Linked DNA regions of Homo sapiens: region 2 is linked to region 1. The links come from fine-mapping of genetic effects on gene expression. A gene starts in region 1. The other region holds a variant in brackets. All regions are shown on one strand. Distances are between the middles of the regions.

Evidence for each region. PIP is the estimated chance that this variant, and not a neighbour inherited with it, causes the effect. A credible set is the group of variants that fine-mapping cannot tell apart.
Region 2: its variant is the best candidate, but not a certain one, in a credible set for the expression of SKAP1 in whole blood (INTERVAL, PIP 0.84).

The regions. Positions count from the first base shown.
Region 1 is chr17:48,428,904-48,431,403 of GRCh38, reverse strand. SKAP1 (src kinase associated phosphoprotein 1) reads left to right here and starts at 1,190. Exons shown (of 13, transcript NM_003726.4): 1 at 1,190-1,329. The coding sequence starts at 1,284. RefSeq lists a silencer at 1,017-1,276.
Region 2 is chr17:48,233,612-48,236,111 of GRCh38, reverse strand. All of the region lies in intron 4 of SKAP1 (src kinase associated phosphoprotein 1), which reads left to right. Among named protein-coding and RNA genes, the nearest start is that of SKAP1-AS2, 59 kb to the left of the region's middle. The variant A/G (reference allele first, on the strand shown) is at 1,346.

The sequences.
Region 1 (2,500 bases):
TGGTGTGTTTTTCAGAGCCCATCTCAAACACCACATGCACCTTTAAACACTCACATGCACACTGGCACTTCTTTTTATTTTCTTTCTTTTTTAAGAGACAGGGTCTTGCTCTGTTGCCCAGGCTGGGGTACACTGGGGTGATCATAGTTGGCTGTAACCTCAGATTCCTGGGCTCAAGTGATCCTCCTGCTTCAGCCTCCCAAAGTGCTGTGATTACAGGTGTGAGCCACAATGCCTGGCCTCTTCCCTCCTTTTCTGGTATTCAGCTCCCTTCTTTTATCAACCATAGCACTTTATACTTTTTTCATGGCAGTTGACCTATTGTACTTAAAAAACCTCTTTATTTTGAGAATTATAGATTCACAGAGAGTTTCAGAAATAATAGAGGAACTCTGTCTACCTTTACCCAGTTTCCCCCAAGGGTAACATCTGGCACTATTACAGTACCATGTCACAACCAGGACACTGACACCAACTGTCCCTTGAATGAGACCGTGTGATTTTGTCCTTCACTTTCCTCCCTTCCGCAGCTCCTGGAGGGAAAGGGCTCTGTTCTCCTCTCCCTCAGCTTTCTCCCTGTGTTACCCCTTCCTTTCCTCAGGGCCTTTCCATCCTGAGGGAGAACAGCACAGTTTGGTTTCCTGTGTCCCTTGCTGCCACGCTGCCGCGATTCTCCCAAATGTTGGTGTCCTTATATTGCTTATTGGGAATTAATCATTTCCTTTCAACATTGTGGCTTCCCAAAGAGCGAAGTTTTGCCCTCTTTTCTGGGGATGGAGATGTGAACTGGACCGGCAATTGAGGGGTGCTATGCTTGACGGGGATCTCTTCCTTGGATTCTGCCTCCCTGCACCCTACTTCAGGCACCCCGTGGTCTTTCAAATCTGCCACCGTGAGGTCAACTGTTCGGTGCTTAGGATGGAGTGTCCAAAGCCGTGGGTCCTTTGAGCCTTGTGAAGTCTTTTGTTTTGGTGGGTGCTGGAGGGGCGCACCTTTGGCCTCGCACGGTGCGGTGCTTCCGGCACCCCCAATCCTTCTACCGTGGGGCTCCGGCGTGAGCGCCACGTGCACCCACGCCCCGCGCCCCGTTCCGGTCCCCGCCTGCCGCCCGCGCCACTTCCTGACGCGCCCGGGGACCCACGGCCCCGCCCCGCGGCCGGGCTGGGCGGGCGGCGACCGCGGCTGAGGTACAGGTGCCTCGCGGTGCAGCCGGGTCGCCTTCCAGCCCGTCCGCCTCCCGACCAGGGCCCGCGCCCCGTCCCGCCTCTCTCCCGCCCAGCCAAATGCAGGCCGCCGCCCTCCCTGAGGAGATCCGTTGGCTCCTGGAAGGTAACGCCCTGGCGCAGGCCCCCTCCAGTGCTGAGCCGAAGGCCGAAAGGGGACACCAGGCCTCCCACGGCCAGGCTTTCTTTACGGCTTCGTCACTCACCTCCTTCTAGAACCTTAAGGCTTCTAGAGCCCTCAACTCCCTAGAGCCAGCTTTCCATCCTCTCACCTCAGGGCCCCTTTCACTCCCTGGAGTCCCACATCTTCTTTTGCCTTGAGGCACCTCCACGCCTCCACTTCACCTCCCCGGCTTCTAAAGTCCTCAGGCCAGGTTCTTGGTCCCCCATGCCACCTTGCCTGGTCTCCGACCTGTCCCTTTCTCCAAAGGACTGCCCTACATCTGTAGGGTTTCCCGTCCCCCTCCTTCCCCAGCCACGACTTCCTCACCTCTCACAGAAGACCCCAAACCTTCCTGCTTAGAGGTCCCCGAGGCTCTCCAGGGGGCTGCGAGGGGCTCATGGGATCCCCATGGGCCAAGGCCAGGTGGTTGACGTGAGTTTTTGTCAGTGCGAAAACCCCAGCCCTCCCTTTATCACCCTGCAGACGTCTAGGGGTCTCACCCACCCCAAGGCAGGCTCATTCTCAGTATGGGATTTCCTCCTTTTCTAGAAGTGCCCCCATTGTGGTGTGTTCACCTTCCAACTCCCATTGTGGTGTGTTCACCTTCCAACTACAGTGTCTAAGCGGTGGTTTAAAGAGTTCCGGCCATCCCCGTCAACACTCAACACACACTGCCAACACTCCAAAGAGATGTCACAAAGAGACGTTGCTAACGGGCAGTTTCATCTGCTGGGTTTCGTGGTGGAAGTCACTTTTACTTGCTTTCCTGTAACTAACCTTCCAGGGAGGACAGAGGCCTGGAATCTGCAGTCGCATAAGGCTCCCAGGAGGAAACTATTCAGAATTAAGCCTTTTGGCATCTAAGTTGACATAGTTGACACATATTTAACAGACGGCCTGCTTTGGGCAGGTCATATTTTTGGCAAGCAGTATTTTTTTTCAGTTTCTCTCAATTTAATTGGTTTTATATCTCCATTACCTTGTTATCTCGGTATAAATGCCTCCTAATCAAATATTTGGCAAGTCCTTTTGGTCTCTGTCTGTAGCACTATTTCCATTCTGGATTGCTTCTATGTAAAAGCTGTCAGCTAGATATTTCTTTTGAGGTGAGGTT
Region 2 (2,500 bases), 200 kb after region 1:
AATGTATTTTTCTCCCTTGACTTTGAAATGTTACAATCATCACATCCAGTGTAACTATTTTTAAAAGGCCCAACATCTTTTCAGATGGTTCCTCATGAATTTTATCCTTCAAATTGTGTCTGCCACTCCACCCAAAATCCTGGGCTGGCTTTCCTCTTAAATCAATGGATCATTTCTCAAAGAAAAGCAAGTGTGGTCCCTTGAGCTACATACCAGACTTGTAGGAAAGACAGATCTTCTAGTATTCTCTGGTATATTTGACTATAGGCTCCTGATGAGTAAAGCAGGAGAAAGAGCTATGATTACTGGTCCAAGTACAAGCAAGACTTGCCTCTGGGTGATGTTATTCTGGGAGTGGAATAGCATCATACACTTGCTAAGTTCTCAGCACTGTGAGTTGGAGTTGGGAGGTGAACACCAACATTCTTTGCCATCCTCAGCTTTGCTGCACTACTGAAAGATTTCATGGCATTAAACCTCTCTCATGCTTGTCCTACTTTAACACAATTTCCAGCAGCATCTTGGATATTCTTCTATTGTCCACTTATCAGTTACCTTAGCACAGAATGAAATGACTGTGTCTGCATTCAGAGTTTTGTTGTAGTTGATCTTGTTCTGCAGTTTTCTACTAAATGGAGTCTGTGAGCAACTTTGATGAACTCACTAAAAAAAAAAAAGTGAAAGCTAACTTTTGAGGCTGTTCAAACTTGATAGTTGTCTAGCAAGTTAGGACAATTTGTTACTTTATGGACCTTCAACCATGGTGATGCTGAATGCTCCATGGTCACACATTCTGTGGTGTTCCCTAAGTATACACATTTATGTTCATTTCTCACTTTCTTTGTAGATCTCTGCCACCTCCCTATCTTCAGGTCCCTTTGCTGCTCATTCCCCTTTTATATATCAACAATACCAGATATTCCCCACTTTTCCACATCTCTCTTTTTCCAAATATTGTTCCATTAGTCTTAGAGAACTCCTATTCATCCTTCAAAACCCAGCTCAGTCTTTGTCTCCTCTGTGAAGCCTTCACATATACACACAAGGAAAAACGTAACATTTCTTGAGCTCCTATTAGGATTCTCATGCTAGGAACTAGTTCGATACTTTTACAAATCTTGCCTTGCTTTATCTTCACAAAGCATTTTAAAATACATTGAGATCTCCATTCTCAAAACATAAAACCAAGGCTAAAAGCTTTATGGCAAGCAATTGAAATATCCAGAATTTAAACCAGGGTCTGCATGATTTCAAAACTCATCCTTGTTCTGCCATATCATGCCACCATAAATCTCCTTTATTCATTTTGTATTAATGCATACATTTGTAATTTTGCTTTTTACTC[A/G]TCACATTCTGTGGTTATTTATTTGACTGTCTTTCCTACCAGAAAAAAAAAAGTGCCTTGAAAATAGAATGTATTTCTTATTTATTTTGGTACCCCCACAGATCTCAGAACATTACCTGACATATAACAGATGCTGAATAAAGGTTTCCAGGGTTGGATTGCATCTGATTAAAATTAAGTTGAACTGAACAACATATTACCTTGAATTTCAGAATTTTGCATTTCTGATGATATCTGGGGCTCAGATGCCATTTACCTCATGCCAGATGACACATGGCCTCAGTTTTCTTCACAGGTGTCCATGTCTAGCCCTGTACCAATTTCATCCTAAACAACTGCCCATATTCCCATTAATGTGACATAATCATTAGCATATATAAGTTCCTAGAGAACTGCTTTCTATCTCATGTCTTTATTGTAGTCAATGGAGTATACTCAGTCTTTTAGGAATAATTAAAATATTCTGTGACTCTAATTAAAGTAGTCTGGATATTTTTAAGAAACCTATATTTAAGAACAAGCTGAGGGCTGACATCAAGTTAATTGTGTTATTTTTAGTGGAGCTATCATTGGAGACAGCAGCATGGCACCCAGTGCCTTTTTTTAATCCTCATATCTGAATATAAAATGTTAAATAACCAGCATCTTGAGCTCTTAAGAGGAAAGGCATTAAAGCATAAATAAATAAAGCTGTTATGAAAGCTTAGAAAATTATCTAAATGCACTTGAGTAAGAAGTCATGTACTTATTAAATTGCTAGTTATAGAGATAAATGCCCTTAAACCTTTCACTGCCAAAAAAACCAAACACTCAAACAACTTGGAACTCTTGTCATATAAGCATGGGGGATGCAGAGAGAGAAGCTGTTGGCTTGTATTTCTGCCACTCTAAGTAAACATTTTTTTTTTCTCAAGACACAGTCTTGCTCTGTCACCCAGGCTGGAGTACAATGGCACAATCTCAGCCCATTGCAACCTCTGCCTCCTGGGTTCAAGCAATTCTTCTGCCTCAGCCTCCCTAGTAGTTGGGATTACAGGTGCGAGCCACTATGCCCGGCTAATTTTTTGTATGTTTTTAGTACAGATGGGGTTTCACCATGTTGGCCAGGCTGGTCTCGAACTCCTGACCTCGTGATCCACCCACCTCGACCTCCCA